Homo sapiens: one gene and its partners. The protein of the gene in region 2 interacts with the protein of the main gene of each other region in a pairwise test. Each region holds a gene or a part of one and is shown on either strand. Other genes may lie near its edges. The genes, in order: ZNF569, TH, TSPYL4 and NFIC.

Region 1 (7,020 bases), on a different chromosome or scaffold from region 2:
AGATCACTGATCACAGATCCCCATAACAGATAATAATATAATGAAAAGGTTTGAAATATTGCAAGAATGTGACACAGACACACACAGTGAGCACATGCTTTTGGAAAAATGGTGCCAATGGGCTTGTTCGATGCAGGGCTGCCACAAGCCTTCAATTTATAAAAAAATGCAACATTTGCCAAGCACAATAAAATAAAGCATAATAACATGAGATATGCCTGTATAAATGCATGAGGAAGAATCATTGAGAAAACAGAAAGGGTATAAAATTTTACCAGCAGAACCAAGGAAATAATTGGAAGAGAAAAAGAAAACCACCATTGAAATGAAGAATATTATGGTGCGGGGGGAATAGAACTTTCACCATTAGAATTACGGTACAGCAATGTCACACTGCAAAACAAGGTAATGGATAAGACAGACATTCTGATGCATCACTGGGTCTACAGGACATAGCACAAACCTCCAAGAATACCTCTCTACCCACCTATCCCACACAAAAAATAAACAATAGGAAAACAAGCAACTGTTAGCTAAAATCAGAGAACACTACAAATAATTTCATACCAAAACATTTGAAAATACAGATGAAACAAATTTTCAAATATAATAGATGATCCTGGAATATCAATGTGTGGTAACTTTTTACAGATACAGAGGAAATTTTAATATTTATGGAAGTTACTTTGTCAACTCTGAAAATTTGAAGACTAGAATTAAGTGGGTAATTTCATGGAAAAATACAACCTATTATCAAAAACTAATGCCAAAAGACAAAAATATATTTACATACACATAGGATAGTTATAAAAGGAAAAATGAAAAGAGTTGTCAAGGAAACTTCCCTCAGAAATACACAAGGTCGAAATAGTTCAACAGGTAACATCTACCAAATTTTCTAGGGAGTTTTAACACTAATGCTATATAAATGCTCTAGAGCATGAAGGAAAGCTTCCAAATTCTATTTATAAAACCAGTCTAACATTGACATTAAAAACTTTAAAAGTATAAACAATTATTTAAATTCATAGCAAACATAAGAGGATGAGTCATTATTGAGAAATATCTAAACATAATTGAACCATATACATTTTAAAAATTGTGATAATCTCCTATAGGAACAGATTGTTTTAACTACATGAATTATTTTAAAAAGTCGAGGTGGCAAAAAAGTACTTCAACGAGGAATAATCTCTTTGGGAAAAAAACACAAGAAAAACATATGACAGATGATGTGCCAATCAGCTCAATATGTTAAGAGTTCATACAAATTAAGAACTTGACAGAAACAAGGGCAAAGGATACCAACTGTTTATTAAAACAAAGAAATATAGATTGGAAACATGAAAAGATGCTTGCCTTCACTCATCATAAAGGAAATGTAAATTCAAGCTATAATTAGCTACCATTTTTCACCTCAGTTTGGCAACGATTTTTTTAAATGCTAACAGACTACACTGGTTGAAGTTACTGGTGGAAATATAAATTATTACAGTCTCTTTGGAGGGCAAAAATGACTTTATAAAATTCAAAATACGTGTATATGGACATATATATGTATATGTATATATGTATATGTGGGTATATATAGATGCACACCTACATTACATACACTTGCATATGTACATGACAAATATATCAGAAAATGGGAGCTACCAAAAAATCAGCACTGACTTAAAACTTTTATTGAAATAAAGGGTGGTAGTGATTATTGAAGTATGAGAGTAAAACCTAAAAATACAGTGGGAAGTATGACTGTACGACATTTCAGACATTTACAATGGAAGAAAGAAGAGAAAGTAAGGGACTATAAATGTCAGTAGGTTTGATTTAACAACTGCAAATTAGTGAATGTATGCAAAAAGAAAGGATCCTGTATATGAGGGTGGATGGTACTCCCGAAGATGCTAATAATAGAATGAATATCAAAGTAAGCCTGGAAACTTATTAGGAAAGGTTGGTATCTAGCACACAGGTAAGAAAGCCAACCAGATCTCTAAGTTCTGAGGAAAGAAATTAAGAATGGTATCTAGAAATGACATCTTAGGTTTATAAAAGAGTTTGCATCAATGGTCACTTTTGTACTACAAAAGTGTACATCAGGCCAGGCGCGGTGGCTCACGCCTGTAATCTCAGCACTTTGGGAGGCTGAGGTGGGCGGATCACTTGAGGTCAGGAGTTCAAGACCAGCCTGGCCAACATAGTGAAACCCCATCCCTACTAAAAATACCAAAAAGTTAGCCAGGCATGGTGGTGCATGCCTATAGTCCCAGCTACTCGGGAGGCTGAGGCATGAGAATCGTTTGAACCCAGGAGCCAGAGGTTGCAGTGAGCCAAGATTGCACCACTGCACTCCAGCCTGGGTGACAGAGTGAGACTCTGTCTCAAAAAAAAAAAAAAAAAAAAAAAAGCCGGGCATGGTGGCTCATGCCTGTAATCCCAACACTTTGGGAGGCCAAGGCAGGCAGATCACGAGGTCAGGAGATCAAGACCATCCTGGCTAACATGGTGAAACCCTGTCTTTACTAAAAATACAAAAAATTAGCAGGGTGTGGTGGCACGTGCCTGTAGTCCCAGCTATCAGGAGGCTGAGGCAGGAAAATCACTTGAACCTGGGAGGTGGGGGTTGCAGTGAGCCGAGATCGCGCCACTGTACTCCACAGTGACAGAGTCTCACTCTGTCACACACATACACACACAAAAGGTCTACATGCTTTCTGAAAATATATATATATTTTTTGAGACAGGGTCTCACTCCGTTGCCTAGGCTAGAGTGCAGTGCTGTGATCATGGCTTACTGTAGCCTCAACCTCCTAGGCTCAAGTGATCCTCCCACCTCAGCCTTCCAAGCAGCTGGGATCATAAGCGTATGCCACCACACGTGGCTAATTTTTTTTTTTTTTTTTTTTTTTGACAGAGTCTTGCTCTGTCGCCCAGGCTGGAGTGCAGTGGCGCAATCTTGGCTCACTGCAACCTCTGCCTCCCGGGTTCAAGCGATTCTCCTGCCTCAGCCTCCCAAGTAGCTGGGACTACAGGCGCGTGTCACCACGCCAAGCTAATTTTTTGTATTTTTAGTAGAGATGGGGTTTCACCGTGTTAGCCAGGATGGTTGTGATCTCCTGACCTCATGATCCGCCCACCTCGGCCTCCTAAAGTGCAGGGATTACAGGCGCAAGCCACTGTGCCAGGCCCAATTTTTCTTTTCTCTTTTTTTTTTAAGAGATGAGGTCTCACTATGTTGCCCAGGCTGGTCCCAAACTCCTGGACTCAAGCAATCCTTCCACCTTGGCTTCCCAAAGTGCTGGGACTATAGGTATGAACCACTGTGCCAACCTCTGAAAATATCTTTGAAGAATATTTTAGAGGGATCAACCATTCACTGATTAATCATTAATAGGCCCTGACCTCTCCTCACCTGTCTGGTTCCCTTCCACTAACCTTGCCAGTGTCTCCTTAATACTTCTTCCTCCATCACCCATGGTTCTTCTTCTTGCTCCAATTTGAAAATCACATCAGGTTTGGTGAACGGATAGCCTGTCAAAGGGAAGTTACATAGATTTGGGCATACATACTAGGAACAAAGAACCACCCAAAAATTGAGGCTGGCCCAGGAAAACCAGGCTAAAGGACAAGAAAATGTGGCTTCGGGGGTTCTGTCCCCTTTTGCTCTGAAAACTGCAGCATGGACATTCACATGAGCAAAAGCATCCCAAGGCCAAGCTCACTCTAATATTTAAAAGGTCCATGTATTTCAGAAACACTGGGAGGAAAAAAAAGGTACTTTCTTTCCAGAGTTTGAATTATATAGTAAATTACTCTTACCTACTGTGATTAAGTTGTTATAGTTTTCTAGCATCACATTCCGGTACAGTTTTCTCTGAGCAGGATCCAATCTCTTCCACTCCTCCTGAGTGAAGTCGATAGCCACATCTTTGAATGTTACTGTTCCCTGTAACAACACACTCCCACTCAATCTGAAGTCATCCATCTTGGGTGATTGTAAACAAAATATATTGAACCTTGTTCTGATATTAATCAGAGGTTATTAAAAAAGCCCATCATATTAGCAGCATCCTGTCATTTATGTTCATTCACTGATTAGCAAGCACATGTCTTTAATATCTACCATGAGTTAAAGGGGAGATTTTAGGTACCAATTTATATTGAGTGTGAAAGAAACATAAAAATAAAACTTTAACCAAGTTAAGTGGTTTGAGATCTCACAAGATACCAAAGGCAGGAAAAAATGAAAGCAAGGCTTAGATGGAAGCAGAAGCAGGGGACAGAATGATAGGTGAAATCTGTGGTATGGTGGGACATGCAACTGGAGATAGCCACTGATTTAGCAGTTGGATGTATTGTTCATGAGATCAGGAGAAATCCACATTGGAAATGAAGATTTATGGGTCATCAGCCTGTAGTATGTGTCTGCAGCCATGAAAATGGGATCTGATTGTTCAAATAGTTTACATGTACTGGAAAAGGGGCCACAGATAGAATCTCAGAGACAACCATGAAAAAACACATGCCCTGATGACAATTTGTTTTTTAATGGTCAGAAATAGAATTATAACTGAAACTGTGTATTTAAAAAGCTGTAGAATGGCTGGGTATTACATGGCTCATGCCTGTAATCCCAGCACTTTAGGAGACTGAGACGTGAAAATCCCTTGAGCCCAGGAGTTTTGAGACGGGCCTGGGCAATGTGGCGAAACCGTCTGTACAAAAAATACAAAAATTAGCCAGGTGTGGTGGTGTGCATCTGTAGTCCCAGCTAGTCAGGAGGCTGAGGTAGGAGGATTGCTTGAGCCCGGGAGGTGGAGGTTGCAGTGAGTCGTGATTGCACCACTACACTCCAGCCTGGGTGGCAGAGCAAGGCCCTGTCTCAAAAAAAAAAAGCTATTGAATGAATTTCAAAAAAACTGGTGAACTTCTTAAAGGCAATGTGATTTGAATATAGAAATCTAATGCACTCTTCCTAGTTCAAAACAGAAATGCCCAAACGTATATGAACATAAGAAAAAATCTTAAATAGCACTCAGCCTGGAAAAAAGGGAGCAATCCATATTTCCTACTGTTTCAGGAATTTCTACCAGAAACTAGGTGAGAAAAAAGAAAGTCTCCAATAGCTCGTTCACAATGTATCTAAGAATTTGTTTCTAGGTCCTAAAAGGAACTTATGAGCATGAACATCCATTAACACTAAGGGCTCAGAGAAAGCTGTGGTACTGATGGGAGATCAGCTCCTGAAAGCCCTTCCTGCTGAAAATCATGATGCTTGCAATAAACATGTTCAAGAAGCAAAAGGCAAAGTGTCAGAGGAAAAAAACCCTGAAATCCAGGGGTTTTTAATATTTCCCCTCATCTGGGAGGAAGATCCAAATAAGCCTGGATAAAGCATTTGGTGAGGAAGTGGGACTGAGGAGAAAGCATGATGTGGAAATCTGGCCCTGGTATAATAGTTTCACCAATTACAGGGAAGAACATGAGCACATAAGAAACACACTCTTGCTGGGACTACCTCAGCTGCAGACTTTTTCCTCAGGAAGTTGTATTTTCTTCAGGAGGTCAGATCATTAAACTAGTAAATAAATTTTAAAAATCAGCACCAAAGATTTTACAAGAAAATCCTAATTGCCCCTAGCTCAAGAGTGAGAGAATCCCAAAAGAAATCATTAAAATACATTTGAAGAAAATACTTGGGAAAAAGAATTTAGTAAATGCAAAAACAGAAACAATTTAAAGTGAAAAATTTAGAACTTACATATACACAAATCTCCATATTTAAAAGCTGGAGCTAGGCGCGGTGGCTCACGCCTGTAATTCTACCACTTTGGGAAGCCGAGGTGGGAGAACTGCTTGAGGCTAGTTCAAGGCCAGTCTGGGCAACATAGCAAAACCTCATCTCTACAATAAATGAATGAATGAATGAATGAATGAATGAATGCCGTGTATGGTGGTGCGTGGCTATAGTCCCAGCTACTTGGGAGGCTGAGGTGGGAAGACTGCTTAAGCCTGGGAGTTTGACTGCAGTGAGCCATGATCTCACCACTGCATTAGAGCAGCCTGGGCAATAGAACAAGACCCTGTCTCTTAAAAAAAAAAAAAAAAAAAAAGCTGATAGTTTAAGAAGAATGAATTAGGCAAATGTTTAGTAAGTTTAAGGAAGAAAAATAAACATCCCAAATTAGGAAAAAACATTAAAACTAATTGATATTTAAAGTAGTATATATCTGTGGTTGAATTTTTTTTTTTTTTTTTGAGATAGAGTCTCGCCCTGTTGCCCAGGCTGGAGTGCAGTGTGGCGTGATGTTGGCTCTCTACAACCTCCGTCTCCTGGATTCAAGTGATTCTCCTGCCTCAGTCTCCCAAATAGCTAGAACTACAGGCGTGCGCCACCACACCCAGCTAATTTTTGTATTTTCAGTAGAGACGGTGTTCCCATGTTGGCCAAGCTGGTCTCTAACTCCTAACCTCAAATGATCTGCCTGCCTCGGCCTCCCAAAGTGCTGGGATTACAGGTGTGAGCCACCACACCCAGCCTGAAATTTTTAAATTCATAATGAAATGAATAGGTTAAAGGGAAACATAAGCCTAAGACTGATCTTAAAAAAAAGAAGAAAATCCCAACAGTGCAATACTATAGCACCCACTGTTATTCTTCTATTCCAATATTTATTCTGTCTTCCCAATTTCTGGCCAGGCACATGGTCTGCTGAAATAAGTATTAATATGTTTATATGATAATGTTCTGGACAGTGAGATGAAAGGACTGCATGCAACTGCTGATAAGTGAACATAAAGGCACGAGGTATACCATTTCTCCTAAGCTTCTACCTTCCTGTAGACTGGTAAGTCAATGCGACTTACCAGAGTCGAGAGCAAACAGAGCCATTTGAGATAATAAGGCAGAAGCCAACAACCAAGAATGGCAGAGCAATGAAGGAGAAAGAGTTTCGTTCTCTGCCCTTTGGAGCTACAGGACCAGCCTTGAACTTCAATATGAGAGACAAATAAACT
Region 2 (7,809 bases):
CTGTGTCATATATGAGTGTGTTTGCCTGTGTAGTGCATGCACATCCGTGTGTGCATCTGGTGTGTCCGTGGGTCATTACGAGTGCATCGTATGTGTATCGTGTACATGAGTACACTTGTATGTGTGGTGTGTACAGGTGCCATGTAAGTGTGCTTGTACATATATGCATGCATGTGTCATATGCATCTGTGTGTGCATGTGTGTGGTGCACACATGTGTTATGTCTGAGTGTGCCTGTATGTGTGCTATGTACACGTCATGTGTGAGTGTGCTTGCATGTGCAGTGTGTGGATGCTGCTTGTACCTGTGGTGTGTACCTGTGTCATGGGTGCTCACACGTGCATGGAGTGTTGTGTGTGTGCTTGTGTGCCCCATGTGTGCATGTGTGTGTGCCTCACACAGATGCCTGCATTTGCCTAGGCACTTGCAAGAGGACACCATGCTGGCTCTCAAAGATCACAGGGCCACCTGAGCCCTGTGCACACCACAGCCAGGCCATGGCTAGACCCTGCAGAGCCACAGGGCGATGCCTGTCAGCCAGGGGACCCAGAACACCTCCTGGGCTCCTCCCCAGCACATGGCTGGGCTCCTCCAGCAGGCCTGGATTTGGGAAGGGCCCGTGGTGGGCAAGGCTGGTGCTGGGGAGCAGGCCTGGTGGCCTCAGAGACTCGCCCTGTGGGCGGAGCAGCCTCACAGCCAGGTCGAAGTCAGCACTCTGACCCTGCCCCACGCGGGGAGTGGGCACCAGTCCCAGGGCACAGACGTGCTGGGTGATTAATCTGGGTGATTAAGCCTCGGGCTGAGAGGCTGTTGAGAGAGAACACGCTCCATTGTGGAGCTGGCTCAGCATTCCTTACGGCCATGGTGGCAGGGGCTGTAACCACAGGGACGGCGGAAGTGGTGGAGGGTGGTGGGGTATGGAGGGAAGCCCAGAGGGCTCCGTGCAGGAAGGTGGAGCCTGGTGCAATGGAGGGGACAGCAAGGGCTCCTCAGACCTCTGCGGGGCCCCCACTCCCCTGGTCACCTGTTTTGTCTCTGATCTGGCCTGGGTCGGCCCTCACTCCTGGCCCCACCTCATAGCCCCCCCTGGTGGGGCTCCGCTCCAGCCCTTCTCCTTCCCAGGGGCCAGTATGCTGGCCCCAGGGGTCTCTTGGGGCGTGACCTCGGCCTCCAGAGAACCCTGTCCCAGCTCTGCCCTTCCCTCTGGGGTCTCTGTAGATGGGACGCTGGTCACAGCAGCCTGTCTGATTTGTTCCCTGTGGCCTAGGTTCCTGAGCCCCACAGTGCCAGGGGATGGATGCCACCGGATCTTTGAAAGACCAGTGTCAGGCCGGGCGCAGTGGCTCACGCCTGTAATCCCAGCACTTTGGGAGGCCGAGGTGGGCGGATCACGAAGTCAGGAGATCGAGACCATCCTGGCTAACACAGTGAAACCCCGTCTCCACTAAAAATACAAAAAGTTAGCTGGGCGTGGTGGTGGGCGCCTGTAGTCCCAGCTACTTGGGAGGCTGAGGCAGGAGAATGGCGTGAACCGGGGAGGCGGAGCTTGCAGTGAGCCGAGATCGCGCCATTGCACTCCAGCCTGGGTGACAGAGCGAGACTCGGTCTCAAAAAAAAAGAAAAAAAGGAAAGACCAGTGTCTTGGGAGTTGGGAAACCTGGGCTGGAGACTCACTGCATGACCCCTGAGAAGTTGCACCTCAGAACCTCAGTCCTCGCATCTGCAGAATGGGTCTGTGAACACCTCAGCTGCCCGAACGTGGATGCCGCAGGCTGACCCAGCACTGAGCTCTACCAAGACCAGGGGCCAGCCGTGTGCTCCCTCCAGGCCTGTGCCCAGCGTGGAGAGGCCTCGTCCCGTGGGCGCTGGAGTGGAGCCTTCCTGGTGTTTGTGGACATCTCTGGAGAGGGCCAGAGGCAGGTGGGTGACACGGGGCATGGCTCAATCATGGGTGGTCCAGACTGGAGAGGTACCCTCGGGCTGGGAGCGGGGAGGCTGGCCAGGGTAGACTTTTGGGGCCTCCATGGATACCCTCACCATCTGGAATCGGAGAGGGGCACGGCACAAAGGAGGGCGGGGCCAGGGCCAGGACTGGAGTCGGGGGCACCTCTGTGCCAACAGGGGCCTTGGATCTGGGGTACAGCATGGTTCCCCGGCCCTGAAGGGGCTGGCGTGTGGGACAGGCTTCCCAGGAATGGATAGGCAGGGATGGATGCTGCCTGATTGGGGCGGGAGGCTGGAGGCAGGGCAGGTGCAGGCACCTGAGGGCAGCACTCACCTCCACAGGGGTCCAGGGGCCTCCCCAGCCTCAGCACCTGGCCTGGGCTCCTGCCTCCAGAGAGCCTGGCCCCAAGGAAGAGTCTAGTAAGCTTAGTTCCCATCGGGCTTCCATGAAAGCACAACTGGCCCGGCAGGAAACCGAATTAAAAAGCAATATTTGTATCAGTGGAAGACATTTGCTGAAAGGTTAAATCCACATCCGGCAGTGTGGGCCATGAGCCTCCGGCGTGGTGTTCATCAGGCATGTCTCTCCTCCTGGCCTGGGCACCTGAGCACTGGGGCCGCCCTGGGCAGAGCTGGGGCGGGGTGCTGGGGGGCCTGGAGCTGCCTCACCGAGGGATCCTCAGCAGCCGACCCTGGGGGAGGCAAATGAGACTCTTTCTGGGGACCTTGAGGGGAGCTCGGGGGAGCCATGCAGAGCTTCACCAGGCCTGGACACTGGGCATGGAGGCTGGGCCACCCAAGGGCCATCACCAGGGACTCAGGTGGGTGGGCCTCAGCCCTGGGTGACAGAAGCTCACGGGCCGCAGGGCGAGGCCAGAGGCTGAGCCTTCAGGCTGAGGTCTTGGAGGCAAATCCCTCCAACGCCCTTCTGAGCAGGCACCCAGACCTACTGTGGGCAGGACCCACAGGAGGTGGAGGCCTTTGGGGAACACTGTGGAGGGGCATAGCATCTCCGAGAGAGGACAGGGTCTGCACTGGGTGCTGAGAGACAGCAGGGGCCGAGCGGTAGGCTTCCCTGCCCCCAGGGATGTTCCAGAGGAGCGCAAGGGAGGGGCATTAATATCGTGGCAAGAAAGGGCAGGCATTGCAGAGTGAGCAGCGACGGAACTGGGTTTTGTGGGATGCATAGGAGTTCACCCGGATAAGAGGTGGGTGAGGAATGACACTGCAAACCGGGGATCACGGAGCCCCAAATCCTTCTGGGCCAGGAAGTGGGAAGGGTTGGGGGGTCTTCCCTTTGCTTTGACTGAGCACTCAGCCTGCCTGCAGAGGGCAGCGAGGAGCCACGGAGGGGTGTGGGACAGGGATGCCATGGCTGAAGCAGTTTTAGGAAAGGTCCCAGGGGCTATTGTTGAAGAGAGAACGGGGAGCGGGGAGTCCCACAGCTGACAGGAGCAGAGTGGGCCCTGAGAGATGCCAGCTCTGGCTGCCACAGTGACCAGCCGGGGTAGGCCTTCGAGAAGTCAGGGAGCGTCTAGGGCTTCTGGCTCCTGCTGGGCCCAGGGTGTCATCTTGGGCTGCCAACACCAGAAAGCCCAGCAGATACAGGAAGCCCCAAGCCCTGTCGGAAACGGTTCTTCTCCAGGAGGGACAGCGGTGGCAGCGTTCAGCCGCAGGCCATGCACTCTGGGGCCACGTCCTTCCCTCTGTACAGTCCAGCATTGTCAAGGCAGGCTCTGGCCATCTCTGCTGACCCCAGAGGGATGGGGAGGCCTCCCCTTCCACCAGAAGGGCCAGAAGCCACCCTGGGCAGGGGCATCACTCTCCCTGGGTGGGGCAGCGGCTGGGAGCAGGAGGTGCCAGTGGGCGTGGGCTGGATGCGGGTGCCTGCGGGGCGGACATGGAACTTGGGGGAGGCTCTAGGCTGGGGTTGTCCTCAAGGGAGTTCTCAGGTCACCCCAGGGTCACCCTCAACCCGGGGCCTGGTGGGGTAGAGGAGAAACTGCAAAGGTCTCTCCAAGGGGAAGGCATCAGGGCCCTCAGCACTGAGGGACGTGCGTGCTCTTTAAAGAAGGGGCCACAGGACCCCGAGGGAAGCCAGGAGCTAGCAGTGGGCCATAGAGGGGCTGAGTGGGGTGGGTGGAAGCCGTCCCTGGCCCTGGTCGCCCTGGCAACCCTGGTGGGGACTGTGATGCAGGAGGTGGCAGCCATTTGGAAACGCGTGGCGTCTCCTTAGAGATGTCTTCTTCAGCCTCCCAGGGTCCTCCACACTGGACAGGTGGGCCCTCCTGGGACATTCTGGACCCCACGGGGCGAGCTTGGGAAGCCGCTGCAAGGGCCACACCTGCAGGGCCCGGGGGCTGTGGGCAGATGGCACTCCTAGGAACCACGTCTATGAGACACACGGCCTGGAATCTTCTGGAGAAGCAAACAAATTGCCTCCTGACATCTGAGGCTGGAGGCTGGATTCCCCGTCTTGGGGCTTTCTGGGTCGGTCTGCCACGAGGTTCTGGTGTTCATTAAAAGTGTGCCCCTGGGCTGCCAGAAAGCCCCTCCCTGTGTGCTCTCTTGAGGGCTGTGGGGCCAAGGGGACCCTGGCTGTCTCAGCCCCCCGCAGAGCACGAGCCCCTGGTCCCCGCAAGCCCGCGGGCTGAGGATGATTCAGACAGGGCTGGGGAGTGAAGGCAATTAGATTCCACGGACGAGCCCTTTCTCCTGCGCCTCCCTCCTTCCTCACCCACCCCCGCCTCCATCAGGCACAGCAGGCAGGGGTGGGGGATGTAAGGAGGGGAAGGTGGGGGACCCAGAGGGGGCTTTGACGTCAGCTCAGCTTATAAGAGGCTGCTGGGCCAGGGCTGTGGAGACGGAGCCCGGACCTCCACACTGAGCCATGCCCACCCCCGACGCCACCACGCCACAGGCCAAGGGCTTCCGCAGGGCCGTGTCTGAGCTGGACGCCAAGCAGGCAGAGGCCATCATGGTAAGAGGGCAGGTAGGTGCCCGGCGGCCGCAGTGGACCGGAGCCCAGGGCTGGTGCCAGCTGCCTCTGCTACTCCCCAGCCTGGCTGGCAGCCCCAGGCTCAGGGTCCATGCAAACCCCTGGGACGCGGCGTGGATGTGGAGGCCTGGGCACAGCGGCATCCCCTGTGCCTGGTGTTTGAGTCCCTGTTGGGGGAGGGTGAGGTGATGCCTGTCCCTGTGTGTGCCCCTCTTAGGCCGACCTCTCTCGGGGGTCGTGTGGGTCTCTGTGTCTTGTTTCATCTTGAATCTTAACGATCGGAATGTGGAAACAAATCCATCCAAAAAATCCAAGATGGCCAGAGGTCCCCGGCTGCTGCACCCAGCCCCCACCCTACTCCCACCTGCCCCTGCCTCCCTCTGCCCCAGCTGCCCTAGTCAGCACCCCAACCAGCCTGCCTGCTTGGGGAGGCAGCCCCAAGGCCCTTCCCAGGCTCTAGCAGCAGCTCATGGTGGGGGGTCCTGGGCAAATAGGGGGCAAAATTCAAAGGGTATCTGGGCTCTGGGGTGATTCCCATTGGCCTGTTCCTCCCTTATTTCCCTCATTCATTCATTCATTCATTCATTCATTCACCATGGAGTCTGTGTTCCCTGTGACCTGCACTCGGAAGCCCTGTGTACAGGGGACTGTGTGGGCCAGGCTGGATAATCGGGAGCTTTTCAGCCCACAGGAGGGGTCTTCGGTGCCTCCTTGGGCACTCAGAACCTTGGGCTCCCTGGCACATTTAAAATGGGTTTTTATTTATGGACCTTGATTGAAATGTGGTGTGAGTTGTAGCAGTGTCATTTCCAGGTACCTTCTCAGGGACACAGGGCGCCCTCCCCCGTCCTCCCCCGCCCTCCCCTACCCTCCCCCACCAGGCTCCCCATCAGGCATCCCCTCCCCAGGGCGCCCCGGGGCCCAGCCTCACAGGCTCTCCGTGGCCTGGAACTGCAGCCCCAGCTGCATCCTACACCCCCACCCCAAGGGTAAGTAAGAGGGGACTCTGGGAGGGGCTTCTGCTGCTCCCCTTCATGTTCCACAACCCTGGAAGCTCAGGATGAAGCTGATTCTTCTCTTACAAGGGGCCCAGAGCCTTCTTGGGAGTTCAGCTCCAAGGGATGAGCCCCAGGTGTCTGCCAAGTCCCCCTCTGTCCAGGCCTGGGACGGCTCTGGGATCGAGGGGTCAGAGGCGCTGAGCCCAGGGAGAGACACCTGCGCCCAGAGCTATGACAAAGGGTGGAGGGATGACAAGGCAGCCAGGAGCGGGCGCCTGCGGGGTGGCACAGAGGGGCAGGGCCCGAGGACAGGTGTCCTGATGGGAGTGTGAGAAAGGGTCCCCTGTGCGGCAGCCAGGAGGGTAGGGGGGTTGTTCACTGGGGCCCTGTGGGGGCAGCTCCTTCCTGAGCTGCCGTTCCCTCCCCGGCAGCCGATGCCACTGTCCATCAAGACATCGCCCTCTTCCCATCACTAATCCAGTTAGCGCCTGGCCTGGGGATGAGTGACACAGCGTCTCTGTCTGTCTGCTCGCCACAGAGTGGGGAGCAGGCGAGCACCTTCCCAGCCCCCACTCCTCCCCCACCACCACTGCTTCTGACTGGGCTGCCCCCATCGGGAAGGGCGTGCAATGCCCGCAGGCACCTCGGCTAGCATCTGCCCCAGCAGGCACACAGTAGGCGCTCAAAAACGTGCTCTCATCCCCTGCCTCTGTGTGCCATCAGCGCTGCCCGACTGTGGGACCAGCTGTGGGTGGAGGTCCCCGGGTCTCAGCAGGTGGAGGAGGCATGGGTGCCCCTTGTCCCCACAGTCCCCGCGGTTCATTGGGCGCAGGCAGAGCCTCATCGAGGACGCCCGCAAGGAGCGGGAGGCGGCGGTGGCAGCAGCGGCCGCTGCAGTCCCCTCGGAGCCCGGGGACCCCCTGGAGGCTGTGGCCTTTGAGGAGAAGGAGGGGAAGGCCGTGCTAAACCTGCTCTTCTCCCCGAGGGCCACCAAGCCCTCGGCGCTGTCCCGAGCTGTGAAGGTGTTTGAGGTGAGCTGGTGGCCTTCGTGTCCCTGGGGCAAGTTCACCTGTGGGTGGGGCTGTGTGGGCTGAGTTCCTGACCCCTCTATAGCAGAGGTGCAGCTGCCCAGGCCCCCGAGGCCGGCACAGGATGCAGCAGGGGAGTCTCAGGCCTCAGCTCAGCCCCCATGGCATCTAGCCACACCCCCGTGTTTTTGAGGGATCCTGAGCCCACCCCTAGGGCTGAGGCTACCAAGCCCCACTGTGCCTCTTGCCTTGCCCATCCCCTGGATCCCCCTCACCCACCATTTCCCACGTGGGGGGCTCCCAGCAGGGCAGCACAAGAGGCAGGGGCAGGGCAGTGTGCCCTCTCCCACCCACCCAGCACAGTGGCTCAGGTGACCACTGATTGCATTAGTCACTCCGGCCCCACTGTGCCCCGGGAGGCAGGTGACCCAGCTCCCGGAAGAAGCTCCCAAATGACATTAAAGCCAGACTCCCCGCCCCCCAGCTCCCAGAGCCAGTTTTGTGGCCCGAGGGCCACTGCGACCCACCGCCCTTGTTGCTAGGCAACAGGAGGTGGGGGTGGAGCGGACCCTTCTGGCCAGTGTCCTGGACGCTCAGGGGCCAGTGAGACTCAGGGCCCATCCTACAAACCTGGATGAGGCCACCAGGGTTGGGGGCACCTTCTGACCAGTGGCTGAGGAGCCGGACTGTGTGGCATGGCCTTGGGACACACACACCGAGCCGCCCAGAACCAGGTTAAGCCTCAAGCGGTGACAACTCCTGGTTAGGCACGTAACACAAAATCCAACTTGCCAGTGGCAAACCCTGGCCTGGTGGCCGACAGCTGACCTGAGCCTGGAAG
Region 3 (7,880 bases), on a different chromosome or scaffold from region 2:
ATGCCGCCAAATGCTTCCACAAAGCTCAGTGTCCCATTGTGGAGCGCCTTACTAACTCCATGATGATGCACGGCTGCAACAACGGCAAGAAGCTCATGACTGTGTGCATCGTCAAGCATGCCTTCGAGGTCATACACCTGCTCACAGGCGAGAACCCTCTGCAGGTCCTGGTGAACGCCATCATCAACAGTGGTCCCCGGGAGGACTCCACACGCATTGGGTGCGCCGGGACTGTGAGACGACAGGCTGTGGACGTGTCCCCACTTCGCCGTGTGAATCAGGCCATCTGGCTGCTGTGCACAGGTGCTCGTGAGGCTGCCTTCCGGAACATTAAGACCATTGCTGAGTGCCTGGCAGAGGAGCTCATCAATGCTGCCAAGGGCTCCTCCAACTCCTATGCCATTAAGAAGAAGGACGTGTGGCCTTCTTGGAGCATGTGGCCAAGTCCAACCGCTGATTTTCCCAGCTGTTGCCCAATAAACCTGTCTGCCCTTCAGGGCAGCCCTACCAAAAAAAGCAAAAAAATTACAACTAAGTTATTATAATGACTTTAAAAAATGTGCATGTTGATATACAATATGAATTTCAAGAAAGGAAAAGGGAGTTATAAAGCACGTTATAAAAAGAAATATCTGGCCAGGTCCGGTGGCTCACACCTGTAATCCCAGCTCTTTGAGAGGCCAAGGCGGGCAGATCACCTGAGGTTGGGAGTTTGAGGCCAGCCTGGCCAATATGGTGAAACCCTGTATCTACTAAAAAAAAAAAAATTAGCCGGGCATGGTGGCAGGTGCCTGTAATCCCAGCTACTTGGGAGACTGAGGTAGAACTGCTTGAACCCAGGAGGTGGAGGTTGCAGTGAGCCAAGATCTTGCCACTGCACTCCAGCCTGGCTGTGACAGAGCGAGACTCCATCTAAAAATAAAATAAAAGTAAAAAATAAATGTTATATCTGATGAGCTGAGAACTGTTAAGGCATTGAAACACAGAATCATGAATTCTTGTTTCTCTTTAGTAATTGGGCACTTCCTCAACAATTGTCACTAATTTTATGGATGGGGGCAGGCTATAGACTGAGTGTTTTTGTCCCCTCTAATATATTGAAACCTAATCCCCAATGTGAGAGTATTTGGAGCTGGGGTCCTCTGGGGGGCAATCGGTGCCCTATAAAAGAGACCTCTGGTTAGAGCCCTAATGAGATTAGTGCCACTATAAAAGAAACCCCAGAGAGATCCCTCACTCCTTTTTGCATGTGAGGACACAGCAAAACAAAACAAAACAAAACACAAAAAAACAACAAACTACAGTCTAAGAATCAGGATGTAGGCCCTCACCAGACACCAAATCTGTTGGTGCCTTGATCTTGGAATTCCCAGCCTTCAGAACTGTGAGAAGTAAGTTACTGTTTACAAGCCACCCACTCTATGGTATTTTGTTACAACAGCCTGAATGGACTAAGACAGGTAAAGGAAAAGAAGATAAAGAAGAAAGTTCAACATTAAATTGGGATGGTCATGTAGTCTTATTTCTAAGAAGGTGGCTTTTCATTTTATGGGTTGTGTAAGGTTGCAGAATACTATGGTGAATGAGTGCACAGGCTCTCCAGTCAGATTACCTCGTTCAGATTGTGGCTCTACCACTTGCTGTGTGATCTTGGATAAACCACTTTATTTCTCATTGCCTCAATTTCTTCTGAGGCATAGGGAAGGGGAGGTCATAATATCACCTCACAGGGTCCTTGTAAAAATTAAATGAGATACACATTTAAGCACATAAAAGTATATGGTATATAGAAAACACTAAATAATGAACCAGAAACTATATCATTCTGAAAAAGAAACTGCTGGTCAAAGATGTAACAATAGGGGATATTTCACAAATTTTCCAATCTTTATACTTTAGTAAAGTCATTCCTGTTTGACTGTATTAATTTATGTTTGAACTTCCATTAAATATCTTTTCTCCTTGCAAATAAAAATTACCTCATAGATTTTCATGGCATTTTCTATCGATATTTTCCCATAGAATCATAAGTCACTGATGTAGTTTTTTCTGCTTAGTAAGGTTTATTGCCAATTTCCAGTAGAATAGACTTTACTGTGTACAAAATATATATTATTCTAATGTGCAAAAAATGTAAAATATAACTCATAGCTACTATTATATATCCACCCACCTCAAAATGAAACACAAGGGTAGTCATACTATTCATTTTGGTAAAATTTTTTAAAATTTTTATTTAAATTTAAATTTTCACTTAAATAATCAAGATTCATTAAAACATTCTATGAGATAGTAACTGGACTATACTGTCGTAGATGCTACAGAAGCTGCTATGCAGTCATTATCTAGCTGGGATAAAACTGACCTTAATGAAACAACCAATAAAGTTAAAAAGTAGAGGATAAATAAGTACGGTCATTTGCTGCATAACATTTTGGTCAAAGATGAACTGCATATACAAGTGTGGGACCATACAATTGTAATACTCTATTTTTACTGTATCATTCTTATGTTTAGATACAAAAATGCTTACCATTATGTTACAAGTGCCTACAGTATTCAGTACAGCAACATGCTGTTCAGGTTTGTAGCCTAGGAGCAATATGATATACTATTTAGCTTAGGTGTATAGTAGGCTATTGCAGCTAGGTTTGATAGATGTACTGTATGATGTTTCCATAATGACAAAATCCCTGTCATTCAGTGAAACGTAACTGTACTAAGTTGGATAGTAAAAGTCATAAGGGCTATACAGAAATCAGAAGACTGTCAAAATGGCAAGTAATTAAGGAAGGAGGTAAAGTAATAAGGTGGGAGGAGGCAATCTGCCAATTAATACATATGTGACCATGGGCATGTTAACTGCTCTGTGCTCACTGGGTCTTTGTTTATAAAATCTAATGTATTTAAACTGCCTAGTACAATCTACATGAACTGAGTGTTAAAGAATGGCCAGGTGGTTATGAGTGAAAAATGATTCAGGTGACAGAACTAATACAGGCTAGAGATGGGAATGCTTTGAGTAGTAGAGATATAAATCTTTAAAAAACTTTGGCACACACAAAAAGAAAAAGAAGTTCACATGTAATTTTATACTTTTCTATAAATTTGTATAGTAGCAAACTTGTTTTTTCCTGCTGCATGGAAAAGTAACTTTCATTCAGTATTCCCTGCTTCTCTTCATCTTGACTCAGGTTATAATGGAAAAGTTACTCTTTCAACAGTGCAAAGGTTCTTTGGAAAAGAAACAGAGCAGTGTCAATAATTCAAAGTCACAAAGTCAATTATAGCACGCTGTTTATGTGTTTACAAAGACGATACCTCAATAGATTGATTTCACCCCACAAATAAAAAAAGAGCGTTTATTAAGACAAAGAGGAAAGAGGGAGAGAAAAATAATTGCTCTCTGCTGTGTGAATCTTGTTTGCATATTTCTTATGGGATAACTGATTAGCTGGCAGGCAGTAAAGAGGTCATTCTGGACACATTGTCCTTGGGTAGGCTGACTAGGCATACAAAAAATCCTGCAAGGCAGGCTGTTTCTCCGTATTGTCTGCCAGTGACCTTTCATCAGTACTTTATCTTAGTTGAACCAGAACTACACTCCTTCCCTCGCTAGAAGTCTCAGTATATATGATGTATTCCTCTAAGAGGAATCCTTTTTCTCTAAATCTGTACTTCTGAGCCTGTATTTGAAAGTGATCATAATCTGGGGGGCTTAAAATGGAGTTTCTTTTACAAAGAGTTATAATCATAACCGTTTATTTGAATATAAATTTGACATTAAACATAAATATGCAAAATTTAAATTTCCCTTTGGTCTTGCATTTTTCTAAGGATTAACACCATTATTCTCACACTCCAACAAACTAATATATTGTACTGATAATCACTATCAAATGAATTGTAAGAGCTAACTGACTCGAATAGACAATAACTAACCTTACTTTTAAAGTATTTTAAGAGACAGTAGCATAGATGCCTGCACATAGCTGATTATTGCTCCTGTGCTGCAGTGAATTACCACATGAACACATTTTGAAAAGATTTGTTAGCTTCATGTCCACAGGCATTATGAAGCAGGAACCACTTTTAGATTAAGATTGTAACCTGAGGAAAAGAACATATGCATCAGTTTAGAAATTAAAATCCCCTGAGATATTTCTTTCAGTAATGCTTAAAAGCCTAAATTTGTGCTCGTGTGCCAGTCACCTCTACGTAAGGAAAAACATTTTGCTACTCTTTGTTAAAAGTGAAGAGGAAATATTGTCCACTTGTTTTGTAGATGTTGGCCAAATTATATAAACTTTAAAATCTGTAAGACAAATTGAAATATTCCTTTATTATGTCTTGTTAGGATGAGAGAAGTTTGCCTTTCAGCTGCTCCTTAATTTTAAAAATAACAACACAGCAACACTTCTCTTTAAAATCAAACTCTGCTCATTTAAATTCTTTGGTAATAGCCATGAATCCACACCTTAAAAGAAGGAAGGCCTGTGAGTTCGTGAATCCACTTTCCTACTCAGGAGAAGCCCTATGAACTGACTTGAATAGACAGTAACTCACCTTAAAGTAAATATTTTCAGAAACAATAGGTTAGGTGCCTTAGAAATTCATTCAGAGGCTTAGAAATCCACATTAACACAGTTCTTACATGCTTGAGTCTGGTCTACATCCATTTACGTAAGTAAAACTCCCCTTCCAGACTGACGAAATTCTTTTTGTGACAAGAAGACAAAGGAATACGATGGATTGATAAGCGTAGTCAACCGCGCAGAGAGTTCTCGCGCGATGTTACGACGCTACCGCCCTGACATCACCAGTTGCCATGGTAGCACCGCCGAGAGTAAAGGAGGGGTGGTGCTAGACGTTTCGGGCAGAGCTCGGCCGCTGCGGAGGACAAGGAACTCTCCCTCTCCCACTAGTCTGACTTCTTCCAAAATGAGCGGCCTGGATGGGGGCAACAAGCTCCCTCTCGCCCAAACCGGCGGCCTGGCTGCTCCCGACCATGCCTCAGGAGATCCGGACCGAGACCAGTGCCAAGGGCTCCGTGAAGAAACCGAGGCGACACAGGTGATGGCGAACACAGGTGGGGGCAGCCTGGAGACCGTTGCGGAGGGGGGTGCATCCCAGGATCCTGTCGACTGTGGCCCCGCGCTCCGCGTCCCAGTTGCCGGGAGTCGCGGCGGTGCAGCGACCAAAGCCGGGCAGGAGGATGCTCCACCTTCTACGAAAGGTCTGGAAGCAGCCTCTGCCGCCGAGGCTGCTGACAGCAGCCAGAAAAATGGCTGTCAGCTTGGAGAGCCCCGTGGCCCTGCTGGGCAGAAGGCTCTAGAAGCCTGTGGCGCAGGGGGCTTGGGGTCTCAGATGATACCGGGGAAGAAGGCCAAGGAAGTGACGACTAAAAAACGCGCCATCTCGGCAGCAGTGGAAAAGGAGGGAGAAGCAGGGGCGGCGATGGAGGAAAAGAAGGTAGTGCAGAAGGAAAAAAAGGTGGCAGGAGGGGTGAAAGAGGAGACACGGCCCAGGGCCCCGAAGATCAATAACTGCATGGACTCACTGGAGGCCATCGATCAAGAGTTGTCAAACGTAAATGCCCAGGCTGACAGGGCCTTCCTTCAGCTTGAGCGCAAGTTTGGCCGCATGCGAAGGCTCCACATGCAGCGCAGAAGTTTCATTATCCAGAATATCCCAGGTTTCTGGGTTACTGCCTTTCGAAACCACCCCCAGCTGTCACCTATGATCAGTGGCCAAGATGAAGACATGCTGAGGTACATGATCAATTTGGAGGTGGAGGAGCTTAAACACCCCAGAGCAGGCTGCAAATTCAAGTTCATCTTTCAGGGCAACCCCTACTTCCGAAATGAGGGGCTTGTCAAGGAATATGAACGCAGATCCTCTGGCCGGGTGGTGTCTCTTTCCACTCCAATCCGCTGGCACCGAGGCCAAGACCCCCAGGCTCATATCCACAGAAACCGGGAAGGGAACACTATCCCTAGTTTCTTCAACTGGTTTTCAGACCACAGCCTTCTAGAATTCGACAGAATTGCAGAGATTATCAAAGGAGAACTGTGGCCCAATCCCCTACAATACTACCTGATGGGTGAAGGGCCCCGTAGAGGAATTCGAGGCCCACCAAGGCAGCCAGTGGAGAGCGCCAGATCCTTCAGGTTCCAGTCTGGCTAATCTCTGTCCTGTGAGAAGCTTCTGCACAAGTTTCCTTACCACCTCCTCTTGGACCTATGCTTGGCCAACAGCATGCAGTCTTCCATCTGCTTTCTCTTCATACTGTGGATTATCTTTTCCTTTGGTTCTAAATCTTCAGTAATCGGTTGCAAGATTGTTGGCTTACCTGCCTGTGCCATTCTTCCTCTGGGCCTTCATGCTTTTCTGCATTGTGTTAACATGTTTCAAGTGCATGGCCTTCTACGGCTTCTATGCCAAGCGTATGATACTATAGATATAGTGTACCATACTGCCTTTCTTTGCATGGCTTGGACCCTATCTGTGACCATGCTCTTCTCCCAATTTAAGTGGTTCTGTACCACAAAGAATCTTGATACATTTTCACAAATAACTGATTGGGCTTCATACTTTATGCTGGCTGTGTCCTGATACCCATGTACTTATGGTAAGCTATTTGGGTATTACCACTGCAAGACAAAACTGATATCTTAACCCGGCCATCAACCCAAATTGGACATTCCAGACTACCACCAACTGGATCCCAGCTGCCTTCCTGGGCTTGTGCCATCCACCCTACTGGTTATCTGATAGAACAAGCTGGTGGCTGATGGGTGACTGCTAGGCGTGACTGAGGTAATAGATGAAAAGTGTTCTATGTTATCACATTGGTTTTCCTGTACCTTTGGTTACTCTACGTCATGACCAGCTGCTGGTGAGTATGAAGCCTGTGCTATAGCCCACCCCTACTCACTCTCACCTTCTGGTTGAACTTTGCTTAGGCCACCATTGTCTGCCTCATCAGGAACTATCTGTAGACGTAGCTCCCAGGGAGCTCACAGCAACACCCCCTACCACCAGGATGGGCAGTAATATGTGACAGAGCCCAAAGCAAGGCTGGAACGCAGTCCCTTCCAGCTTAGTCTTTCTGACTCCTAGCCAACAAACCATCCTTAATGTGAGCAACTTCTTTAGGCATTTCCTCTTTTCCCCGCCTGCACCCACTCTGAACATGACAAAAGTTGCCAGAGTTGGGGCATTGAGGAAGAGATATTTCTGGAATGTGAGACTTGTTATGCCTCTGTCTCTTTCTCTCCCTCCTCCTCCCCTCTCCCTCCCCCTCTCCCTCCCATCCCTTTTCTTCCCTTTCACTCTGAAGCAGTTTTAGCTTATTAACAGAAAACAAAACTGGCAAAGCAGGCTTTTTGTTTAATTTGCTCTTTCCCTGATTGTGTTCAGAGAGAAAGGTTATGATTAAATGGGCTCCAGATCTCTTATTGCCCTTATTCCTCCACCCCACTTCTTTTAGCAAGGTCTGAAAGTTTCAAAGGGAGACCTATAGGTTAATTGTTTAGTTATAGGCAGTGTTAAATTAGGCAGATTTTGACATATTTATCTTTTTACCCCATCCATTCTACCAAAACCTGTGTATTTCTTGAGTTTTTAGTTTGAGAAGCTGGAAAGAGAGAGAAGGGCCTCACAGTGATGGGTTCAGGACGGGTCAAAGGCAAAGGCCTTTGTGATGTGAGCAAAGGCAACCAAAACTTAGCCTCACTCCACTTTTCTAAAGATGGAAATTCTTTTTTGGGCCTTGGACTGCTTCTAGGGTAGCATTTTGTAGGTCACTCTTCTCCTTTGTACTATTTTGTTTCTGCCCTGATGTCCCTTGGGTCTCCATCCTACTGCCTGGCTTTCTT
Region 4 (7,246 bases), on a different chromosome or scaffold from region 2:
CAGGGCCGCCAGCACCCACTCCCCACTCGGCGGGCCGGGCCCGGGTGGCACAGAGCGGGCTGGCACCGAGATGCCCCCCACCCCCCGCCAGCCTCGGCTCCCGAGAAGGATCCGGGTCGGATCAGCTAAAAGGGAGCTATTTTCGGTTGGGCTCAGGTTGTAAAATTAGCTGGGAAAAGGGGGAGAGGGAGGCCCAGAGACAGAGAGAGACAGAGAGAGAGGAGTAAGGAGACACATGCAGAGATAGAGAGAGACAGGGAGAGAGGGGGCAAGGGGAGACACGCAGAGACAGAGGAGAAAGGGAAGGTGAGACAGAGATGAAGAGACAGACAGACATATTGGAGAGAAACAGAGACAGAGAGGAAGGGGGCAGAGAGACAGAGACAGAGAAACAGACAGAGACACATCGGACAGACACACAAAGAAGGCAAAGGGAGGGAGAGACAGAGAGACAGAGACACATCAAAGAGACATGCAGAGACAAAGAGGAGAAAGGGATGGTGAGATAGACATGAAGAGACAGAGACAGTGGGAGAGACTGAGACATCAGAGAGACAGAGGATGAGAAAGAGAGACACAAAGAGACCAACAGTGACTGGGAGTGAAACAGAGGCGGGGAGAGACAGAGATGGAGAGACAGGGAGAAACAGACACACACACACACACACACACACACACACACACAGAGTCAGAGCAAGACAGAGAGAAAGAGAGAAAGACAGACAAAAAGAGACCAAGATGAGAGAAACGGAGGGGACGTGATTCGGGAAACTGAGTCAGGCAGCCAGGACTTGGGTGGGAGGCTCCTGCATGGGGCACTCAGGGTCCTTCTGAGTCCCCCAGCCCACCCCACTGGCTACCCCAGACCAGGCTGGGCCTTGGGGGAACAGTGGGGATTACATTCAGGCTGAAGACAAACTGGAAAGGGGGTCCCCAGCTCCACTACAGGGCTGGGGTGGAGGGCGGGGCAGAGAGGAGAATCGCAGGGGAGGAGGGAGCCCCCTGCACTTGGGACTCGCTGTCCCCACTCTGGCCTGGGAGCTCTCTGCCTCTGTCTCTCTGCCTGTCTCTGTCTTCTCATCTCTGTCTCTTGCACGCAGCACCCCTGGATAGTTTTTAGTTTTTAGCCTCTCCGTTTTTTGGTTTCCACAGACAGCCCTCCTGGCTGGTCCTTGCCCTGTTCCTGGAGAAACTGAGGCCGAGTTAGCAATTCTCTGAGGCAAAGCCTGGACTGGGGTTCTTACTAACCCCCAACCCACCCCAGCAACCAGGATGTCTCCCAACCAGCCCTGATGGGGGAATTCCAGGGTGCACAGGCAGCCTTCCAACCTCCCCAGCCTGGAACAGCCTCCCCTCCGCTCAGCCCTCCCAAATGGCTCCTTCCAGCTGGTGAGGACAGAGCGGGGACACCTCAGTCACCCCACAAGCCCAGAGACTTCAAAGGCTGCCCGAGGTCACACAGCGTGCCCACTCGAACCCTAGTTGTTCTTGGAGAACTTCAAAGAGATGCCTTCTTCGGGAACCCCCCCCCCAAAGCTGCTCAGAAAGGGAAACTGAGGCTGGGACAGGGACTTACCCAAGGTCACTCAGGGGATCACAGGTAGGACAGACCTCAGACCCCCTCAGCACCAGCTCCCACATTCCCTGTCGGCTGCAGGGGGCCGGTGAGAAAGACCCTACCAAGGAGCATGCCTGGCGTGGGGGGTCCCTCACTGCACCATGCCCTGGAGCGGAAGCCGGGGACTCATATACTCCCCACACAGTGCTTCTTAAGACGGGCCTGGCCCTCGCTGGAATCGCACCCCCCACGTGCCGGGACTTTACAGTTTGCCCGCCATACTGTCCCCTCTCCAGAACCGGCCTTAGCCGCACCTCACTTCAGGGGAAACTGAGGCCAGAACCTCTCCAGCCTAAAGACACACTGCGTAAGGAGGAAAGCAGCGGTCTAGAAAACGGAACTTGCAGACCTCGGGGTCCCCGGGAGCCTGGGCTGGAAGGAGTCCCCGGGGGGAGCCGCCCCCTCCCCACACACCCCCTCGGCCATTGCACAAGGCTCGGCCCCGGGGCAGTCTGGGAGTGCGGCCAGGGGTGAGAGGCTACGGGAGGGGGAGGGGGAGGGGGAGGGGACGGGGCAGGTGCCGGGCTGGCGAGGGCGTCCGCAGCGCCGCAGTGCCCGGGCCAGACCCGGAGCGCCGGGCCTCCCGCTCCTCCCGGCGGCGGCTCCAGAATCCAGAATCCAGAATCCAGAATCGATGCAGCGAAAATACCGGGACGGTGCTGGGGGGCTTGCAAAGGAGGGGGGACCCAGCCGGGCCGCCGGAGCACCCTTCCCCCTCCTGGGCCTCCAACTTCTCCTGCCCCCTCCCCCTCCATGCACACGTGGGCCAATAACGAGGGAAAGGCGACCGAGGGCCAGGGCGGCCCGCACAACCTTGGTGGGGGGACACGGGGAAAACACATGAGAGGTCCCTTTCTCTCCAGCTGGGGAGACCCAGGGTCCAATCACGACCCCCTAGATTCCTCTCAGAGGCAGGCGGGGGGCTTCCCGCAGAGCCCTTGCTGGAGGGGGGCCAGCCCCCACCCCGACCTTTCCGAGTGTCGGGGCGGGGGTGCGGAGTGCGTCGGTGTGTGGGGGGGGGACGCAAATCTGCAGACCAAGCCCCACATCCGGGAGAGGTCCCGAGAGTCGGGGTTGGGGGTGCTGGGCGGGAGTCCCGCGTAGGGGGTCCGCGGTAGGTAAGGGTGTGGGGGGGGTACCCCAGCCTGACCCATCCCCCCACCGGACCCCAGCCCTCGGCGCGGGGGGCATCCCGGGCAGGGATGGCGGGAGGGACGCGCGCCTTTTTCGTCCCGCCTCCTCCTGCTTCAAAACTCCGGGGCTGGGATGCGGGGGGCGCGGGGGCGCCGGCGGGGGGCCGGGCGAGGACCGTACCTGGGTGAGGCAGAGCGGGGACGAATACATCCCGGGCGCGGCGGGAGGCGCAGGGCCGGCCGGAGCGGGCGCGCTGAACTTACTGAGTCATTTTTCCAAACCACCCCCCCGCCCCCCCCAACCCCCCCCCCCGCCCCGCGGCCGGCGCGCTCTCCTCGCCGCCTCCTCCCTCGGTCTCCCTCCTCCTCCCTCCTGCTCTCCCTCTCTCGCGCCGCCCGCCTCGCTCTCTGTCCCTCTCTCCCTCCGTCTCTCTCTTCCTCTCTCCCCCGTCTCTGTCTCTCTGTCTCTCTCTCTACCCTCTGACACCCTCCCCCTCCCACCCCGAACCTCCCACTTCTCAACACCCAACTTTCAAAGAAACGAGGGAAAAAAGGGCGCGAGCGAGAAAGGAGAGCCTCCCCCGACGTCTCAGGACCCCCCCGCTCCTCCCGTATTTACGCAATGCCCCAGGGCACTAGACCAGGACCCCAGGACTGCAGGGCGACCCCAATTCGGATCAAGCGGAGAGGGGGGACAGGGTTGTTTCTGGACATTGAGGGGCCAGGGGTGGATTTTTAAGGCCCCCCCTCCCCACCCCCCCATCACCCCCGAGCTGGCCGGGAAGTTGGAGGAAAGAGCCAGGGGGGAGGGAAGGAATGAAGAAGTGACGTGCGCAGAGGCCGGCCAGCGCGCCTCTTTCCCCTTAAAGATGTACGACCCTGGGTGCACGGTGAGCTGGTCCCACAGCACCCTGGCTCCCTTCTCCCCCCAGAGCCAGGCAGGGGCTGCGGGTCCCCAGCTAGAGGGGCTTGTGTGCAGCTGTCCCTTCCTTGGCCAGAAGGGCCCAGGCTAACACGGGAGGCTCCAGAATTTGCTCTCTTCACCCAGCACCCAAGGGGCAGGGGAGGGGTGGCCTCGCCTGTGTGTCTCTCCAGCACCCCAGGAGGACGGTGTCCAGGCGGGATCTCCAGCTGGCCAGATAAACCCTTGCAGCCTCCCCCTGGGTATCCAATAATTTCCACCTGCCTCAGGGGTGTGCCCTTTTCACAGATCTCAAGACTGAGGTATGGCAAGTGTGGCTTGGAGCCAGGCCATCTGGACCTGGAGCCCACATTCTGTTCTCCTTCTAGACGTAACAGGGCAGAGACCTGGCCTGCCTCCGTCTGAGCCCCCAGGGCATCTGATGACAGGGCCCCAACCCTCCCCCGGTTCACTCCCTGGATCCTCCCAGGCTAGCTCAGAGGCTGCTGTGTCTCTCATTCCCATCCCAAGGGTTCTCCCCTATAAAGTGGCTTAAAGATGCCCATCCTGTGGGATTGCTGGGGATAAGGACAATGACCTTAGCAGAGCCTTGACCTTGGGTCAAATGTTCACTAAAGACACATTCTTAGAAAGCTTGGCCATTTCACCTCATCTCTCTGAGCTTCCCAAGGACAAATGATACCCTCTCACCAAGCTGGGGCAGGTGCCCCAGGCCCAGGGGCGCAGAAGATACCAGCACCCATTATCCTCAGGCATTACAGGAGAGGAAACTGAGGCCCAGAGAACGGAAGCCACTTGCCCAGGGTCTGACAGGTAAACTAGGAGGGAGCAGAATTCCTGCAGCGTAGGTTCCCTAGGCCCCCCACAGGCTCCCCTCTGCATGACGGTGACATTATTCAAACAGTGCTTAGTACATCACGAACGGTCCATAAATGTGTGTGTCTGTGTATTTTAAACCCACTGTGCAGCTGTGGGGAGCATTTGAATTAAATGGTGAGAAGTGTATCTGGAAATCCACATACCAATATAACGTGAAGCAATTTATTTTATTAAAACACGCTAGGGACACATACAGGGTGAAATCTAAAATTCACAGATATTTAAAAGTTGCAGTTGACTTCAGACACTCCTCCTAGACTTCCAGACCCCGTGCCTTCCACCCTCCCTCCCCTGTACAGACCACCCTGCCTGCAGCCTTCATTCAGCAGCTTAGAATCCTTTGGAAGGTGAAGTTTAGAGAGCAGAGACTGCCCCTCTTGGAACCTCGGTTTCCTCATCTGTAAAATGGCTATAGTAACAGGATGCATCTTGGGAGGTGGGGAAGGTTGGAGTCTTTACATAGCATGTGGGAAGGCTGTGTGAATATTATTGGTGGCGGTAGCTGCAGGGAGAAACTTCTGCAAGTGTACGAACAGCAGCCTATATCCCAGTTTGGGTGGCAAGGGACCCCCGCAGCACACACAGTTGGTTCCCTAAATTGCCGCGTGGGCTCGCTGCTTGGGTCTATGTCTCCTCCAGTCAGCAGCTTCGTCTCTCTGCACCTCGGCTCTCCCTCTGTGAAATGGGGCGACGCCAGCTCATAACCCTCCAGGTTGTAGGCAAGTCAGCAAATACCTGCCCGTGGTTACAACAGGGAACTGTACGTCATAGTTTCTTTAAAAAGGCAATTGGTAGATTGGGACCTGCATGTGGAGGGCCCGGAAGATGGGTGCATGATTTAGCTCCTGGCACTTTCGAGCACAATCTGGCTCATTTTTTTTTTTTTTCAAAGCACTCTCTCTACAGTTATTTCACTCTTCGGCATCTCTGTAACTGTCCCAGATACAGGAGCACAAAAGAGTTGACTGCCACCTATAAAACTAATGCCCACAATTTGGAGGCAGCCATGCTGTCCATCTGTGGGGGACCGGTTTAGTAATCCCAACACAGGCTGGGACACTATGCAGCTGAGTAAAACCAGTGGCTCCCAACTGGTTATGTCCCCAAGAGACAAGTGGGGGGACAGAAAGCTGGAGAGCTCTCCCCCTTGGCACTGTGGACACTGGGGCTGGATCGCTCTCTGGGTTGGGGCCGTCCTGGGCCCTGCAGGGTGCTGAGCAGAGTCCATGGCCTCCACCCACTCCATGCCAGGGGCACCCCCCAGTCGTGACAACCACAAATGTCCTTAGACATGGCTAAGTGTCCCATGGGAACAGAATCAACCCTGGCTGAGACCCCACTGCTGTAGACCCAGCAAGGAAATTCAAGATCTCATTTAGGGTTTTAAAGAGTACACATGTATTTATACAAATATACATAGTATCCTTTACATACACACACATGCACACACACCCACACACACACATATCTCCTTTGGCCGGTTGTAGTGGCTCACGCCTGTAATCCCAACACTTTGGGAGGCCGAGGCAGGCAGATCACTTGAGGTCAGGAGTTTAAAATCAGCCTGGCCAACATGGCGAAACCCCGTCTCTACTAAAATTACAAAAATTAGCCGGGCATGGGCGAGGGTGCCTGTAATGTCAGCTACTCGGGAGGCTGAGGCTGGAGGTTCGCTTGAACTCGGGAGGTGGAGGTTGCAGTGAGCCAGGATCATGCCATTGCACTCCAGCCTGGGCAACAGAGCGAAACTCCATCTCAAAAAAAAAAAAAAAAAAAATATATATATATATATATATATATATATACACACACATACACATACATATACATATGTCTCCTTTATGGAAATACACGAGTATTTCCACAAGTACATCCTTTATGGAAATATACACATATGCACATGTATCCTCTATAAGTGTGTATTTCTCAGTCCTGCAAATGCTCCAACTATAGATGGTAACATTCTGGAGCGGGGTTCCACCCAGGAATGGGGGTGATCAGAAAGATTGGATTTTTTTTCCTCTGGATACAGTTGTATCCTCTTCATATGATCACTAATGGCTTCAGTAATTAAAGGAAAACTTAAAAAGTTGAATGCAATTCACAGAGCAGCTCAGGCAGGGTAGACAGGAACCCCCAGCCCCCCATGGTAACCCCACAGCCACCACACCCAGAGAATAAAGGACATAATCTTGCAGGCAAATGATTACACAGCAGTGCAGTGTGCAGTCAGCCTCCCCTAGCCCCGCACCTGCTCAGCAAGGGGCTCACAATGTCAGCTCCCCAGGAACCTTGCAAGGGTCCCATGTGGTCCCATTTTACAGATGAGAAACTGAGGCTGTAAGAAGGGATGTTAAAGTCAAGTGAGTTAAAGGTCAGATAGGCCGTTGAGGCTGGTACAGATAGACACACACACCACACACTACGACCTACAGAGACACACAGACACACATCGTGCAGACTCAAGCAGCTGCAGACACAGACTCCACACGACACACAGCTACATACACAAAGACACAAATACACGCACAGACTCACATAAAAACAGACCCATATATCATCACAGCCTTCCCCCCACACCTGACCTCAGATACCTCCTCAAAGAGGGGCGAGCAGAGACACACACACACACACACAGACCCACATGGCACACACACAGCCACAAACACACCCTCCCAACTCCCCACAGGACGC

The links.
Region 1: the proteins of TH (region 2) and ZNF569 interact in binary tests that used the Homo sapiens proteins (3 or more experiments, as listed by UniProt).
Region 3: the proteins of TH (region 2) and TSPYL4 interact in binary tests that used the Homo sapiens proteins (3 or more experiments, as listed by UniProt).
Region 4: the proteins of TH (region 2) and NFIC interact in binary tests that used the Homo sapiens proteins (3 or more experiments, as listed by UniProt).

What each region holds. Positions count from the first base shown.
Region 1 is NC_000019.10:37,422,430-37,429,449, forward strand, and holds part of ZNF569 (zinc finger protein 569), read right to left. Parts: intron 3,950-7,020; coding exon 3,823-3,949; intron 3,535-3,822; coding exon 3,439-3,534; intron 1-3,438. UniProt on the Homo sapiens protein: May be involved in transcriptional regulation.
Region 2 is NC_000011.10:2,168,812-2,176,620, reverse strand, and holds the start of TH (tyrosine 3-monooxygenase), read left to right. Parts: upstream 1-4,805; 5' UTR 4,806-4,834; coding exon 4,835-4,924; coding exon of another isoform or gene 4,925-4,936; intron 4,937-5,850; coding exon of another isoform or gene 5,851-5,931; intron 5,932-6,749; coding exon 6,750-6,971; intron 6,972-7,809. UniProt on the Homo sapiens protein: Catalyzes the conversion of L-tyrosine to L-dihydroxyphenylalanine (L-Dopa), the rate-limiting step in the biosynthesis of catecholamines, dopamine, noradrenaline, and adrenaline. Uses tetrahydrobiopterin and molecular oxygen to convert tyrosine to L-Dopa.
Region 3 is NC_000006.12:116,251,070-116,258,949, reverse strand, and holds the start of TSPYL4 (testis-specific Y-encoded-like protein 4), read left to right. Parts: upstream 1-4,874; 5' UTR 4,875-4,941; coding exon 4,942-6,186; 3' UTR 6,187-7,880.
Region 4 is NC_000019.10:3,362,353-3,369,598, reverse strand, and holds the start of NFIC (nuclear factor 1 C-type), read right to left. Parts: upstream 3,017-7,246; 5' UTR 2,963-3,016; coding exon 2,933-2,962; intron 1-2,932.